Regions from separate parts of the Homo sapiens genome. Here all the other regions are linked to region 1. The links come from fine-mapping of genetic effects on gene expression. A gene starts in region 1. Each other region holds a variant in brackets. All regions are shown on one strand. Distances are between the middles of the regions. Region 1 holds the start of ABCC4 (ATP binding cassette subfamily C member 4 (PEL blood group)). Region 2 has its middle 39 kb from the start of ABCC4. Region 3 overlaps ABCC4 (ATP binding cassette subfamily C member 4 (PEL blood group)). Region 4 overlaps ABCC4 (ATP binding cassette subfamily C member 4 (PEL blood group)).

The links. PIP is the estimated chance that this variant, and not a neighbour inherited with it, causes the effect.
Region 2: its variant is the best candidate, but not a certain one, in a credible set for the expression of ABCC4 in gastroesophageal junction (GTEx, PIP 0.67).
Region 3: its variant is the best candidate, but not a certain one, in a credible set for the expression of ABCC4 in whole blood (INTERVAL, PIP 0.89).
Region 4: its variant is the best candidate, but not a certain one, in a credible set for the expression of ABCC4 in whole blood (INTERVAL, PIP 0.51).

What each region holds. Positions count from the first base shown.
Region 1 is chr13:95,298,960-95,303,121 of GRCh38, reverse strand. It overlaps ABCC4 (ATP binding cassette subfamily C member 4 (PEL blood group)), which reads left to right and starts at 1,671. Exons shown (of 31, transcript NM_005845.5): 1 at 1,671-1,881. The coding sequence starts at 1,808. It overlaps LOC102724149 (a long non-coding RNA gene), which reads right to left and starts at 2,171. Exons shown (of 3, transcript XR_429273.4): 1 at 1,859-2,171; 2 at 796-1,176. RefSeq lists silencers at 1,166-1,225, 1,406-1,465, 1,496-2,135 and enhancers at 952-1,726, 3,329-3,388.
Region 2 is chr13:95,338,492-95,342,653 of GRCh38, reverse strand. No RefSeq gene overlaps it. Among named protein-coding and RNA genes, the nearest start is that of ABCC4, 39 kb to the right of the region's middle. The variant G/A (reference allele first, on the strand shown) is at 2,199.
Region 3 is chr13:95,273,560-95,277,721 of GRCh38, reverse strand. All of the region lies in intron 1 of ABCC4 (ATP binding cassette subfamily C member 4 (PEL blood group)), which reads left to right. Among named protein-coding and RNA genes, the nearest start is that of ABCC4, 26 kb to the left of the region's middle. RefSeq lists a silencer at 3,039-3,138. The variant G/TTTTG (reference allele first, on the strand shown) is at 1,973.
Region 4 is chr13:95,052,924-95,057,085 of GRCh38, reverse strand. ABCC4 (ATP binding cassette subfamily C member 4 (PEL blood group)) reads left to right here. Exons shown (of 31, transcript NM_005845.5): 27 at 3,902-3,991. Among named protein-coding and RNA genes, the nearest start is that of LINC00557, 95 kb to the right of the region's middle. The variant TA/A (reference allele first, on the strand shown) is at 2,538.

The DNA of each region.
Region 1 (4,162 bases):
CCTTTCATTTTTTTTCATTCAGGGTGGATATGAAGAGCAGCTGCTGACCTTGTTAAGGTAGCCACAGAAATGACTGAAGACTTAGAGGTGGGAGTACACAAGCTTGGAACAAGATTTTGTTCATTCATTCCTACAGCCATTCAACCAGCATATTCTGGGCACTTCTCATGCACACTGGCCATCCACCAGGGAGACAGGCCATGCTTAGACATAGGCTTATTGCAAATCATGTTTTATCCTTTCTTGGCTCTAAGACTGGACAAGTTCTGCCTTTCAGCTTCACCTTCCTCATCTATAAAGTAAGGATAACCTTGAATGGGGCACTGATAGAATTAAAAGTGAGATAATTGGTCGGGCGTGGTGGTACATGCCTGTAATCCTAGCACTTTGGGAGGCCACGGTGGGAGGATCACTTGAGCCTAGGAGTTTGAGACCAGCCTGGGCAACAAAGTGAGAAATTATCAAGGAACAATAAAATGATCTTATTACAAAGAAAACCAAATTCTCAAACATGCATGAAATATGAAGAAAATAAACCTCCATGACAATCATTTGGCTTCAAAAATTATCAGTATTTGAACTTGGAGCCTTTGATTTTGATTTTTGCATCTCTACAAAAATTACAAAATATGAGCCGGGTGTGGTGGCGGGTGCCTGTAGTCCTAGCTACTTAAACTGAGTTGGGAGGATTGCTTGAGCCCTGGGAGGTCGAGGGTGCAATGAGCCATAATCGTGACACTGTGTGTGAGACTGCCACACACACACACACACACACACACTAGTGAGGCTACGCACTCAGAAATGCACATGAACATCACTGGTATTCTGGAACCCACGTGTCGTTTGCCACTGTTATCTGTTAGGCTTTAGGGCTTGACGACAGAAATCATCAGGCAGTCTCTCTTTCCTCTTATATTCCTTTCCCAATCTAAGGGGGCAGCAAAAAGCTCAGAGGTCCACCGTAGCATGCAACATGTGAGATGCCTAAAGCCCGCCCCCATCGACGACAGCATTCATCCATCTCCCGAATTCATCTGGGTCATACTCTCGAGTTACCCGGCTTTCTTGAGGTCTTGCAGCTCTACAAGGATAATCTGTGGCTAAACTTTGCTGTCGTCCAAGGTCAAATGTTTGGCTCACAGGTTGAAGAGCCTCCCATGGCACCGTCGTTTGGTCCTGAGAAGGGAAAGGCGCCCAGGGGGCGGGCTGCTAGAGCACGAGGCAGCTGTCTCCCAGTCTTCCCAAACCCGTAGCCGAGGGGGCGTTTCTGCGGCGCAGGGGCGGGCACAGCCGACGCCTCCCTGCTCCACCTTCTGTGTCGGCGCCTAGACTCGGATAGTGAATTTCGGAAAGTTTCACTCGGGTTCGTGCACGTGGGCACCTCCGGACCCGGCCTCCTTGCCGCGCGCTCTGCTACCCTCTCCATCCAGCGGCGCAGGCGGCCCTCGCCTCACCCCTGGGCGTAGCTCTGGGCTCCCTTTGGCGTCGCCAGCTTCGCCTCCTCCCGCCGCGTCTCCTCCCGCCGCGTCACCCGTCGGTCCCGGCCGCGCTCGCACGCGGTGCGCAGCTCCCGGGCTCCAGGCGGCGGCGCGTAGCGGGCGCCCCCGAGGCGGCGGGCCTGAGAGGCGGGGACGGGGCGTGCCGCCGGCGCCCGGCTCCCGGAAGCGGCTGCTTCACAGGCTCCAGCCGAGCGGACAGGCGTGGCGGCCGGAGCCCCAGCATCCCTGCTTGAGGTCCAGGAGCGGAGCCCGCGGCCACCGCCGCCTGATCAGCGCGACCCCGGCCCGCGCCCGCCCCGCCCGGCAAGATGCTGCCCGTGTACCAGGAGGTGAAGCCCAACCCGCTGCAGGACGCGAACCTCTGCTCACGCGTGTTCTTCTGGTGAGTGTCCCCGCCCGAAACAGGTCACCCTGCAGCCGCTGGCGCCGCGGACGCACTCTCCCGGGGCCGCGCCCGATGCTGCCCAAGCCCTCTGCGGCTGGGGGCGAGGGGAGCGCTTTCCTACGCCACGCGGTCCACGCCGGGGCTTTCTGCTGCGGGTGGCGCCGCCCCCACGCCGGCCGCGTGGTCCCTGCCTGCGCCCCGGGGCGCGGCGCAGGGGGACGCGGGGACGCGGGGCCAGTGGCTTTGCTACTGGAGGCCCTGCGGGCCCTTAGGGCTCGGGGGAGGAGGAGCAGGAGGTGGGGAGGCGGGGAACCCAGGCTGCCGAAAGGGGGAGTCTCTTGCCCAGCGGGAGAAGCGACTGCACCCCTTACACGCCCACCCTTCGCTGGCTCCCGCCTCCTGCTCTGGGACTCGCAGTCTCCTGAACTCAAACGCACCTTTTCCTTTCTTTTTAAGTAAGCAGCTTACGAACAGTTTCCTTTATCTGATCTCAGCCAAAGCCTAATTAGTGTCCTGGACCTATGCCATCTCCCAGTAGTGTCCCCACCCCTTCCGATATTCCTTACGAGACAGCTCGATCCAACTCCACGTCCCGTTGTACCTCTCTGTGTCCCGGTGTCTCTGTATCTTTTGTCTCAGTGACCAGGGCTCTCCTTTTGCCTCTTTGTGGGAATCTCACTGTGTGTCCATGTGGGTCGTGGTACCTAGTTATGGCAAGTTTCATGTGGGTAAAATAACACTATTATTATTTTTCATTTATGAATGGGGACCCTGTTCTTGAACAAGATTTTCCAGGATTTGCTTTTAACTGGGACATGCACCGCCACGACTGGAGTCTGTCTTTGACCAGCTTCTTTCCCCTGTTTCCAATACTTTCACTTCCACGTAGGAGGACAGCTCGGAGGTGGGGTCCCTGGAATCGCTAACCTTCAGAGAGGTGATCCATGGTCTTGATGCAGGTGGTTCCTACCAGGAGTTCTACCTTCTTAAAACCACCCCAGGGCTCCTGAGCTGGGAGGGCCCACAGCCCTACCCATTTTGTGCAAGGAAACAAACGGAGAAAGACTCGGGTGACAGTAGTAACTAAAATTTCCATCTTGGCCTGGCGCGGTGGCTCACGCCTGTATCCCTGCACTTTGGGAGGCAGAGGTGGGTGGATCACGAGGTCAGGAGTTCGAGACCAGCCTGGCTGACATGGTGAAACCCCGTCTCTACTAAAAATACAAAAATTAGCCGGGTGTGGTGGAGCACGCCTGTAATCCCAGCTACTCAGGAGGCTGAGGCAGGGGAATTGCTTGAACCCAGTAGGCGGAGGTTGCAGTGAGCTGAGATCGCCCCACTGTACTCCAGCCTGGGTGACAGAGTGAGACTCCGTCTTGGGGGAGTGGCGGGTGTGTGTGGGGGAATTCCGTCTGCTAACTACATAAGCCTGAACCTTTGAAGGGCTTCAATCTCACTTGGATGATTATTAGATCTTCTGTTTCTTGACCTCTGCCGCCTCATCTTTCCCACATGTTGATATTGCCTTTTATTATGGGACAACCTAGGGTGGGGGTCTCCAATTTTTTGGGTTCCCTGGGCCACACTGGAAGAATTGTCTTGGGCCATACATAAAATACACTAACACTAATCATACACTAACACTAATGATAGCTGATGAGCTAAAAAAAAATCGCAAAAAAAAATCTGATGTTTTAAGAAAGCTTACGAATTTGGCAGCCCATGGGCCTCAGGTTGGACAAGCTTGACCTAGGGGATTCCAAGAGGATGAGTCGCTTACTCTTGTTTCGATTGTGGTACACTCAGTGGGTGTAGGAACTTCTCTTGGTTGTTTGGCGGCCTTTCTCTTAAGGAGAGGGGCACGTGGAGGAGGAAGGAATATGGGTGTGGTTTCTGCAAATAATAACTTGAGGTAGACAAATGGTCTCCTCAACTTCAGGCAGGGCAAGGAACTTTTTTTTTTTTTTTTTGAGACAGGATCTTGCTTTGTGCAAGCTGTGACCCAGGCTGGAGGGCAGTGACACATTCATAGCTTGCTGCAGCCTCCAACTCCTGGGCCGAAGCAATCCTCCTGCCTCAGCCTCCCGAGTAGCTGGGGCTCCAGGTGTGTGTCACCATGCCCGGATAATAAAAAAAAATTTTTTTTGTAGAGATAGGGCTCTCTATGTTGTTGCTCAGGCTGGTCTTGAACTCCTGGGCTCAAGTGTTCCTCCCGCTTCGGCCACCCAAAGTCTGGGATTACAGATGTGACTCCTGCCTCCTTATATTTTTCTCCCCC
Region 2 (4,162 bases), 40 kb before region 1:
ACAAGCTGAGCAGATTTAAGTCTGAATTGATTCTAGGGCTCTAGGGCCCACTGCTGGGGGGTTCCAGTGTCTGATATCAGCCACGAGAATCCATTTTTCCAAGGAAGCCTGTTGCCTTATCTTGTATGTAGAACACAGCAAATTGCAACTCGGATTTTCCAAGGGTGTCAAAGGAAAGAGAAGGTCCACTTTCTCTTCCTGATTGTTATTGCCACCATACATTCTGGATAAGAACATGGGCACCAATGACTTCTTTTATATCCTGCAGAAAAGCAGCACAAGAAATATATACAGAGTTTTTACTGAAAAAAAAAATGAGATGCAAAAGGAAAGTAACCCTGCCTGATAAAATAATTTCTTTATAAATTTTAATTAATTAATTTTTATTTTTAGAGATGGGGGTCTCGCTATGTTGCCCAGGCTGGTCTCGAACTCCTGGTCTCAAGCCATCTTTCTGCTTTGACCTTCCAAAGTGTAGGAATTACAGGCGTGAGCCACCGCACCCAGCCAAAATAATTTCATCAACAGCTACAATACTAAGATTTGTGCACTTTGGGGTAAATACATAAAGTGTTTTTTCCCCCTAAACGCTGCCTATGATCTTTGTTATCCCCAAACTGGTCTATGTTATCCTCTTTCCCTTAATGAATTCTCAAAGTGATTCTATATTTTTTTCAGTTCATAAGGCTCAGCTCTGTTCACTTACAACTTCAATCTCACATCCTACTCAAGTTTCTCACCTGTCAGCCAAGCAAGTTAGCCTCAAGGCCCTAGATCAGGGTGTCTCAACTTCAGTGCTGCTGACATTTGAGGGGCTGTCCTGTGCATTGTTACATATTTAGCAGTATCCCCAATCGGTACCTACTACATACCAGCAGCACCCTCCCCACAGTAGTGACAATCAGAAATGCCTCCAAGCATTGCCGAATGTCCCCTGGGGGTGCAAATCACCCCCATTTGGGAGCCACAGCTCTAGATGTTTGGAATGCTTGTGTGGGGATTTTGGTATGTTCTGGTTTTCACAGACCTCTTCCTCCTCCCTTTTTCTGGTGCCAAAATTCCTGAATTAAGAAATTGCGGCCAGGCCCGGTGGCTCATGCCTGTAATCCTGGCACTTTGGGAGGCCGAGGCAGGCAGATCACTTGAGGTCAAGAGTTTGAAACCAGCCATGGCCAAGATGGTGAAACCCTGTCTCTACTAAAAATACAAAAAATTAGCCAGGCATGGTGGCACATGCCTGTAATCCTAGCTACTGGGGAGGCTGAGGCAGGACAATTGCTTGAACCCGGGAAGCAGAGGTTGCAGTGAGCTGAAATCGCACCACTGCACTCCAGCCTGGGTGACAGAGGGAGACTCTGTCTCAAAAAAAAAAAAAAAAAAAAAGAAATTGCAATCTAGCTATCCACTTATTTTATTTGCAGTTGGAGAGGTAGGGTGGAGATATAGGAACGACTGAATTTAATATTTTGATAAATTATCTTGCCATAATAGCTTCTTCTCATTAAACATCTATGTTCCAGGAATTGTAATAAACACTGTCACATAAACAATAATCCTGTGAGACTGGGCGCAGTGACTCGCCTGTAATCCCAGCACTCTGGGAGGCCAAGGCAGGCGGATCACAAGGTGAGGAGTTCAAGATGAGCCTGGCCAATATGGTGAAACCCCATCTCTACTGAAAATACAAAAATTAGCCGCGTGTGGTGGCGGGCACCCGTAAACCCAGCTACTCGGGAGGCTGAGGCAGGAGAATCCTTTGAAACCAGGAGGCAGAGATTGTAGTGAGCTGAGATCGCATGCCACTGCACTGCAGCCTGGGCGACAGGGCAAGACTCTGTCTCATTAAAACAAACAAACAAATAAACAAACAAACAATAACCCTATGAGTTAGGTACTACTTTTTGTATCCATATTACAGATGAGAAACCAATTTCAGCAAACATAAGTAAATTTCCCAGGGTGGTCCAGCTGTAAAAGAAGATACGAATATAAATCTAGACAATCTGGGTTACAGGGCACAAAGTATTCATCTTCAACTTGGAGTTCAGCTTCTGGAATGCAAGGGTGGATTAACACAGGGGAACTGGGAGAGATGGGCTTATGTGTGTTAGGCCCAGGCCAGCAGATGTGAAGCTTCACAGGACTGTGTGGGTAGAAGGGAGGTCCAAATCATACATAAGCAACAAGGGCCTATCTGG[G/A]CAACATTCTGGGGAGGCTCAATGCAGCAGAATGATGACTAGGGGTTATTTGTTTCTTTCTTTATTTCCAATCCTATTCCTGCCAAACCTCCCTGCCCCAGGAACCCAGGACAGGTATCCTGCACCCCTCTTACCTGTGTCTCCATTTTCTCCGCATCTTGTTTCGGGTTTCGCTGACAAAGCTCCTCAATCGGTAGGGCGTGGTGGCTCACGCCTGTAATCCCAGCACTTTGGGAGACTGAGGTGAGACGATCACTTGAGGCCAGGAGTTCAAGACCAGCCTGGAGAACATAGTGAAACCCTGTCTCTACTAAAAATACAAAAAAATTAGCTGAGCTTGGTGGTGCTTGCCTATAATCCCAACTACTCAGGAGGCTGAAGCATAAGAATCTCTTGAGCCTGGGAGGTGGAGGAGGCAGTCAGCCAAGATTGTACCACTGCACTCCAGCCTGGGCAACAGAGCAAGCTCTTTCCCCCACCGCCTCCCCCCCCCAAAAAAAAGAAAAAAGAAAAAAGAAAAAAAAACCCTCAACAAATTTACCCTCTGATTTCTTTTTTAACTTAATCCCAAATGTGATAGTACCCTCTGATGTTAATGTTAGCTTGGTCTCATATGAAACTGACCATCACCAAGGTAATATAGCCACATCTGGACAGTGAACGGCCTATTGGCTGGTGAAAAGCCAAGATGACTGGCTTTGAATCAAACAATGCAGGTGTATGCCCAGCTCTATTACTGTCACTGAAAACATGTGTGGCCTCAGCAAATCAGGGACCTTCTCTGAGCCTCAGATTCTTTTCCTATAAATTCGGATGATATCTCCCACCTCACAGAATTATGTTTGGGATTAACTGAAATTTCACACCTAAGAAAGCCAAGCACTGTCGCTGTATTCTATGAATTTAGTAAAAGTTAGTTGGATCTGAATCAATCCACAGGAGGAAGAATTTTAAAGCATCATTAGTCAGTAATAGACATATTGAGCAGGAAGCAAATTCACATTGTTGGGGGACAATACAGGTTAATATTTAAAAAAAGAAAAACCAAAGGGCTCAGGTTAAATCACCCAGTTCTGATGGGATAAGAAAGGAAATGGCGTTGACGATTAAAAGAGGAGCTCTAAATTTTTGCATCATTTAATCAGCAAAGAGGACAAATTTACAGCAATGCTGGGGAACTTAGCGTGTGCACAAATATATTAGAACTGTTTATAGGGTTTGCTTGACTTTAATTTCCTGGTGTTATTACTATGATTCTTCTTTGGTTGAGGCTTGTAGATGGGTTATATGAAGAATGAGAACACTTCTAGAACTCAGAGTTCCAAATGAATATTAGCCAGGTGTCCATGCCTGACGGCAAATCTAAACAGTTTATTCAAAGAATGAGTCTTACGACTTTTATAGTTTGGGGAACTGTTTTTCTGTGTGGTTCCTCTGGAACAGAGTGGAGGACTGAAACAGCAAAGAGACACTGTTATGATCACCAGGCATCAGGCCAAGACAGGGAAAGAGGATGGGTTTAGGGGATTTGAACTCTGAGAGTTCCTTCAATGGAAAAGTCTATGTCCCTGCAGCACGAGACCCATGACCTTGCCTCTAAAGCATATGCAGGCATCCTTGCCCTTTAACCAAAATCTATCTCATAATAAATCCAGACGCCTGAAGACTTCAGGTACTCTATAGTCTTCTTTTTCTTTCTTTCTTTCTTTTTTTTTTAATTTCTCAGCTGGGCGTGGTGGCTCATGCCGTAATCTGAGCACTTTGGGAGACCGAGGTGGGTGAATCACCTGAGGTCAGGAGTTTGAGACCAGCCTGGCCAACATGGCGAAACCCCGTCTCTACTAAAAATACAAAAATTAGCTGGGCGCGGTGGCGGGCACCTGTAATCCCAGCTACTCGGGAGGCTGAGGCTGGAGAATCACTTGAACCCAGGAGGCGGAGGTGGCAGTGAGCTGAGATTGTAC
Region 3 (4,162 bases), 25 kb after region 1:
TTGCTTGGAACTTGTTGACCCTGCTCTTGTCACTGGGGGCTTTGTCCTCCTGGGAAACTCTGCCTTGACCACCCATCTAGAGTAAACGCCCCCATTCACTACCATGGCTCCCTACTTTCTTTGTGGATTTTTTTTTTTTTTTTGAGAAGTCTCACTCTTGTTGCCTAGGCTGGAGTGCAATGGCATGGTCCCAGCTCACTGCAACCTCCACCTCCTGGGTTCAGGCGATCCTCCTGCCTCAGGCTCCCAAATAACTGAGATTACAGGCGCCCGCCACCATGCCCGGCTAATTTTTGTATTTTTGGTAGAGACAAGGTTTCACCATGTTGGCCAGGCTGGTCTCGAACTCCTGAACTCAGGTGATCCACCCTCCTTGGCCTCCCAAAGTGCTTGGATTATAGGTGTGAGCCACTGTGCCTGGCCTTCTGTGTGGATCTTACTGTTACTCTGACCCCCTCTTTTTAGTGTGATTGCCTTTCCCTCTCCCCTCTCCCTTCCCCAATGTGAACTCTGTAAAAATGATCCTAGGTCTAGAACCTATAAGAGTGCCTGTTAGTGGTGGGTGCTTAAGAGTTAATTTGAATTAATGAGGTTAATAATTCTTGTTTCCCTATAGTCCTGTTGTTGAGATTCCTGGTTAGAAAAAAAAGTGAGTTGTGGGTTGTATACTTTGTTTATTTATTTATTGTATTTATTTATTTTTGAGACTGAGTCTCGCTCTGTCGCCCAGTCTGGAGTGCAGTGGTGCGACTTCGGCTAACTCCAACTTTTGCCTCCCGGATTCAAGCGATTCTCCTGCCTCAGCCTCCTAAGTAGCTGGGACTACAGGCGTGTGCCACCACACTCGGTTAATGTTTGTGCTTTTAGTAGAGACAGAGTTTCACCATGTTGGCCAGGCTGGTCTCGGACTCCTGGCCTCAGGTGATCTGCCTGCCTTGGCTTCCCAAAGTGTTGGGATTACAGGCGTGAGCCACTGCGGCTGGCCCGTGGGTTGTATCCTTTTTTATTAATAAAGGCATCTCTATATGCTGTGGTTTGAGAGGGGTTGAAGGCTACTTCCCATGGGAATGAGTGAGGAAGAGCCTATTGCACTCTGGTGTCTTTGAGGGAAAGAGAGGCGGGTGGCTGCCTTCTCTGCTCTTGGGTTCCACAGCTGGGGATTGGGAGGTTACTCTTTTATCAATTGGTTTTTTCTTTTTTTCTTTTTTTTTTTTTGAGGCAGGGTCTCACTCTGTCGCCTAGGCTAGTGTGCAGTGGTATGATCACAGCTTATTGCAGCTTCGTTCACTTTTTTTTTTTTTTTTTTTGGAGATGGGTCCTGTACTGTCTCCCAGGCTCGAGTGCAGTGGTGAGATCATGGCTCACTGCAGCCTTGACTTCCTGGGCTTAAGTGATCCTCCCACTTCAGCCTCTGGAATAGCTGGGACCACAGGCGTGTTCCACCATGCCTAGCTAATAAAACAATTTTTTTGTAGGGACTAGGTCTTGCCATGTTGCCCAGGCTGGTCTCAAACTCCTGGGCTTGAGCAATCCTCCTGCCTTGGCCCCTCAAAGCAGTGAGATTATAGGCATGAACCATTGTGCTCAGCCCTGAGATTTGTTTTAAAAAGTGCCCTGAGATTCACTATGGAGTATTCCCTCTTGATTTATTTCCTACCAAGTAAGCCCTTTAACAGACCATGTATGGCAGCTTTTTGAAGAATGTTTTAGGTCTTTCTAAATATGCAGCTATTCAGGCTAAGGATTGGCATGTTTGTAATTGACCTAATGATTCAAAGAATGGACTGGTTCAGCTGGAATTTTCCTAAAATCTATCCCATTGACAGAGTATTGCACAATTAGAAAAGTGTATGATTTATAATTAGCGTACCCACTTTAACTCTGAATAACAGGCATAAAGGTTATTATATTTTGAATCAGTGTTAACAGTTTTAGACAGCTGTTCTTTGTTACTTGATTTTTTTTTTTTTTT[G/TTTTG]AGACAGAAACTTACTCTGTCACCCAGGCTGGAGTGCAGTACAGAGATTTCTGCCCACTGCAGCCTGTATTTTGAGGCACAGTTGTTTTTGCTCATTAGAGTGCTGCTGAGAGAGTTGATTTCCTAGTTCTAGAGTCACCGCCAAGAGTCCTAAACATTTTCCTATAAGAGAGATGGTAAGGATGGTTACAAAGAAGTAGGCCTGATTTGGTGTAGAAAATTGGTTTCATGTTCAAAGCCAACAAGGGGATGGGGGAGTTTTGGATCAGACCTTTGATTCTGGCGCAGAGCCACAAGGGCTTTGTGTGTTTTGTTTACAGAGCTTAAGCAATCTCAGTTATTAGCTTGCGGATAATTACCAGAAATGTGAACTTAAATCTGTGCTTATTTATTTAACTCCTTGCCTTTTCTCCTAAGAATGTAGGGTGGTGGCATTATAAAAATTAAAGAAAAAGCAAGGCTCCACCACTTTCATGGTGATTCTACTTTACCTGCAGTAAAATCACAGCATGATGGCCAAATTGCCCTTCCTCTCCAAACTTCATACCATTTACTATAAAATAATTTGGATCATAGGGTGATGTAGGCCTGGGGCTGAAGTCTGTGTCAGAATGTTCCTGTGGAGGTTTATATGTTAAAAATTAAAATGAAAACCTGTTTTATTTTATTTTTTGAGACGGAGTCTTGCTCTGTTGCCCAGGCTGGAGTGCAGTGGCACAATCTCGGCTCACTGCAACCTCTGCCTCCCGGGTTCAAGTGATTATCCTGCTTCAGCCTCCTGAGTAGCTGGGATTACAGGCACCCACCACCACACCTGGCTAATTTTTGTGTTTTTAGTAGAGACAGGGTTGTACCATGTTGGCCAGGCTGGTCTCGAACTCCTGACGTCAAGTGATCCGCCTGCCTCGGCCTCCCAAAGTGCTGGGATTACAGGCATAAGCCACCATGCCTGGCTTATTCTATGTTGTTTTTTGTGATGGTCAGTGAGATGTGGCCACAGGAGGAGGCAGAGGAGGTGCTCAGGAAGGCCAAGGTTATTATACTCACAGGTCTTAGAGACGGGAAGCATGTCATGCCCTGCAGGGCCACATGGGGAAGCATCAGTCTTGGTCCCCCCTGTAGGAGCCTGAAGGGGCAGGAGTGAGGGGAGAGCCTGGGCCATGGTCTTTCTTGAGCTTTCAGGGACAGGGCAGGGGAGTGCATGTGAACAGTTTAGAATTGGCTAGTTTGAATAATTTTGGCAGGCTGTAAGCTACAGGCATGGTTTCTAGTTGCTTGTTATCAGGCTCTGGCATGATATAGGTGAAGAAATACTGCTTCCTGGGGTGGACAGGCTAGATAAAGACGGCATAGCTCTGGGTTGGTTGGTTTGCATATCAGAGCTGTGCTCCTGGCTGGGCCCTTCTGGTTCTAAGAACTGGCCAGCTCTGGGAAGGACAGTCTCTCCCCAGCCAGAGAGGTTTCCAAAACGTCAAGACATCATAGTATGCACAAAGTAAAAAATATAAACAGTACAAAGGCCCTGAACAGGGTCACCCTGCTGTATGAGAAATCTACTGGCCTGGCTGAAGGGGAAAGTTGCTTGGGCAGAACAGTGAAAAGCTAAAGCAGGCTTGTTAGTTGTATGAGTCTGTTTTCACGCTGCTGATAAAGACATACCTGAGACTGGGCAATTTACAAAAGAAGAGGTTTAGTGGACTTACAGTTCCATGTGGCTGGGGAGACCTCACAATCATGACAGAAGGCACGGAGGAGAAAGTCACGTGGATGGCAGCAGGCAAAGAGAGAGCTTGTGCAGGCAAACTCTTATTTTTAAAAGCATCAGATATCGCGTGAACCCCGGGGGGCGGAGCCTGCAGTGAGCCTAGATCGCGCCACTGCATTCCAGCCTGGGCAACAGCAAGACTCCGTCTCAAAAAAAAAAAAAAAAAAACAAACCAAAAAAAAAACCCATCAGATCTCGTGAGACTTATCCACTATCACAAGAACAGCACAGGAAAGACCCGCCCCCATGATTCAATTATCTCCCATTGGATCCCTCCCACAACATGTGGGAACTGTGGGAGCTACAAGATGAGATTTGGGTGGGGACACAGAGCCATATCAGTAGTGTAAACCTGGAGCCAGCAGGAAGAGGCATTTGACAGAGCAGGAGGGTCCATGGTGCTCAGTCAAAGTCTTAGGACAAAT
Region 4 (4,162 bases), 250 kb after region 1:
GGAGAACACCAAGGTGATACTATAACTCAGACAAGAGTTTGCTTAACTGAAGGATCTGGAAAAATGGATTTCAAAACTTTTTTTAGGATGGATTATTTACTCCTCCAATCCTACTGGCACAAATAAATGTTTTCAACTAAAGAGTAACTTCATGCAAATTCAACATTTATGATAGCACCCTAACGGTTGGCATACATCAACAGCTATAATCTTTGTTAGGATTAAACAGATTCATTTTTCATATTTGATGGACTTTTTTGTTTTTCTATCAAAGCAAAAGCTAAGTAGTTTTTAAGCAGCCCACTGCTCAGACTTCTGCTATCTTGGTATTTCTACTCCCTGAATTTTCTTCAGTAAGTTGAAAAGGTTAACCAGAGTGTGTCTCTTTAAGACTTCTTTTTTTATTACCTGATTTTCTTTCCTTTTTTTTTTTTTTTCTTCTTTTTGAGAACAAAATTCAAAGGGAAAAGAGGTAGGTATGCAGTTACTAGTAAAGAAATACAATTGGATTCTGGCCTAATGCAGTCAGTCCTTTGTTTCTGCACACTGAAGTCTTCATTAAGGCCATGGAACTGCTCCCTGGAGCTGGTGACCTTTTTGTATCTAAAGAAGACTTTACACGACTTAAATTCTTTTTCCTTTGTTGGTGAACAATGTTCTTTTCTTCTGAAAATGGATGATGATCAGTTCATTCAGAGGCTACAGGGTTTTTTTAAAAAAGAAGGGAAACCAAGATTTAAAGTGACTTCAGGTGATTCCCTGATTCTTGACACAGGGAGATGAGCTGCCCTGAATCAAGGTCTTCAGGATTTGAAATGCACACATAGCTCTGAGGACATCAGGCAGCAGCAGTTGTGGCTAGCTACTGTGCAGTGTATATTTTAAGAGAGCGAAGTTTCCTGGTTTGGGACAAGATTAGGGTAAAGTATTGTGCTTTGTCCTGCTGGTTTGTAACTCCCCATGCGATTTTTGTCTTGGTCCCAGGTCGTTTTAAGTGTCTGAAGGTTGGTGGATAGAGTTTCTTCTTGAGATAATGAGAGGCTTGTCTTCCAGAAGTTTATATGAAAGCTCTAGGAAGACTGTAATTTTCAGTCTTGCAGTCCTGCTGAGGGATTATCAATTTACTGCACTAAATGCTTTGATTCAGAGCGGCCATTTTTAGGTCACGTGGTGGGTTTTTTTTTTGCTGTTGTTGCTGTTGTTTTGAGACAGTCTTGCTCTGTCTCCCAGGCTGCAGTGCAGTGGTGCTATCTTGGCTCACTTCAACCTCCACCTCCTGGGTTCAAGTGATTCTCCTGTCTCAGCCTCCCGAGTAGCTGGAATTACAGGCGCACCCCACCCTGCCTGGCTACTTTTTGTATTTTTAGTAGAGATGGGATTTCACCATGTTGGCCAGGCTGGTCTTGAACTTCTGACCACCAGTGAACCACCTGCCTCGGCCTCCCAAAGTGCTGGGATTACAGGCATGAGCCACCACACCCAGCCTGGTCACATGTTTAATATCAGCTTGTCTTATGTGAGTAATGAGGACAAAATTACTACTCAGTATGGCGCAAAGATTTTTAAAAAGTATGACCTTTAAACCCTAATGAAAAACAGGTTTGATCTGGTGCTTCATTTAAAATAATACGTTGAACAGAACATTGGTTTTGCTAACAATGGAGGTTAAAACTCGTACTAAATGACATTTTAAAATATATACCATCAATAAATATGTACTTAGGCTACTAAATCTTTTACATTTTACATGAAGATTGTATGTTTACCATAAATCTCTACTCTGAAATGTTCTGCCTGCAGAGGTTGGAATTTTAGAGTTGATAATTACAAAGAGTAAGTCAAGTTTTTATCTTTTAATCTGAAATAACCAGAATGATGGTTATTCCCCTCACAAGAAATTCCCACCATTGTTTAGATGGTTGTTCAGGTTTTGGTCTTCAGTTGGGTACTTTTAAGACAGACCTTACCTGTGACTCTTGGAATTTTTCAGTTCCATTTGGTAATTCAGAAACATCATGTGACCAGTGACTTTTCAGTGCTTTTGGAAGGATATTGGCCACTTTATCAGCTTTATACACACAAAGTGCCCATTTTACCGTCGTTTCCATTTTTGCATTTTGCTGAGGACTTATGTTTTTGGTGGCACCCTGTCTGCCTTCTACATCCATTTCTTCCTCACCAGCCTTAAAACGGAGACGATAGGGAAAGGGATGAGAGCCTCCCTGGATATCATTTTTCTTTATGGCTGGAGAAAAAAGAAGTCTACCACCTTTATCTCTCTTCTCAGGCTTTTGGGAAGTGAGGAGGAACAGTCCTGCCCCAAAGCCAGGTGAGATTTGAGGCCAGTGGTTCCCTTGAGCATTTCTCCAGTACCTGTGGAAGAGTCTCACCTTCTCTTGTTCCCACATCTGTGCATCCCCTTGTTCTGCCCCTATCCTTGAAAGCAGTTGATGGGGCTCCTATATCCTTATGGCCTGGCTTATTAGAGCCTTCCAGAAGAAAAGTTTGTGTTTTTGTTTTTTTGTTGTTTTTTTTTT[TA/A]AGATGGAGACTTGCTCTGTGGCCCAGGCTGGAGTGCAGTGACGGAATCTTGGCTCACTGCAACCTCTGCCTCCCAGGTCAAAGTGATTCTCCTGCCTCAGCCTCCCAAGTAGCTGGGACTACAGGTGCCCGCCACCGCACCCAGCTACCAGAAGAAAACTTTCACACAGCCTACCTAAGCTTATGTTCAAGAGTCTCTCTTGAAATCCAGGAAGAGGCTGATATTCCAAGAGTGATTTAATTGTGGGATCCTCCTGAAGCAGATGAATAGGAACAGCTATTTAAATTGATGTAATTTTATTATGACCTCCTTCACAGTGGTTTTCAGGTAACCCTGCTTTCTTAGTTAATAATGAGGTTCTGTGACCCAGGTAACCTTGATGCACAGATGAGATAATGTGGGGATTCACTGATGCAAAATCAGAGGCAATCCTTTCATAAGTAGAGGTGCCTCTGGCCCCAGTTGTTTAGATCTCCTTTGGCCAAAAAAAAAAAAAAAAAAAAAAAAAAAAAAAAAAAAAAAAAAGGATGTCCCATTCTGACATTGGAGAGATTTTTTTTTTTTTTTTTGAGAAGGAGTTTTGCTCTTGTTGCCCAGGCTGGAGTGCAATGGCACGATCTCGGCTCACTGCAACCTCCACCTCCTGGATTCAAGCGATTCTCTTGCCTCAGCCTCCTAAGTAGCTGGGATTACAGGCATGTGCCACCATGCCCAGCTAATTTTTGTATTTTTAGTAGAGACAGGGTTTCACTATGTTGGTCGGGCTGGTCTAGAACTCCTGACCTCAGGTGATCCACCCGCCTCGACCTCCCAAAATACTAAGATTACATGCGTGAGCCACTGCGCCCGGTGAGAGATTCTTAATCTTGGAAAACTGTTTTGCCAACGGAGAAAATAATCCTAATTTATTCTTTAGTGCAAATTGGAAAATGCTTAATAATTTGGCTTTGAAGCACAAACTTTAATCATGCTGTCGGTATTTTCCAGTATTACATGATTGATAGTTAATTTCTATAGCTCTATTCATGTAGACCCTCGAATAATTATATCCTTATATTTCATGTTAAGCTAATAATATGAGGAAAACAGTTTTAAACATCAGGCCTGTATTTTTCATTTTCTTCTTAAGATAGCACATTGCAACAGTTTTGTTAGTGTTCAGTGGTCTGGAAGGTATTTTGGAGCACGCTTTGTACAGTGGAACATTAATAGATATGTTGTTTTGTAAACAGGCATTTGTAACGCTATAATTATTATCATGAATTTTATTTTTTGGTATCTTAATTCTATTGTTGATGTTAGCATTGGAATAAAATGAAAAAAGAGTCTGTGGTAATGACCGTGACTATTTTGGGCACTTAGGAACCTGTTTTGTTCACTGGAACAATGAGGAAAAACCTGGATCCCTTTAATGAGCACACGGATGAGGAACTGTGGAATGCCTTACAAGAGGTAATTGATAAAATGTAATTATCTTTAGTCTGTTAGCCTCAGTATGTGTATATGTACCTTTACAGCATTGCAGGAAATTAAGAGGAGCTTAGCGGTTTAACTAACTTTGTTCACCACCCAGGAGATCATTGAGGATGTGGATATGCTATAATGTGTATACTGATGATGATG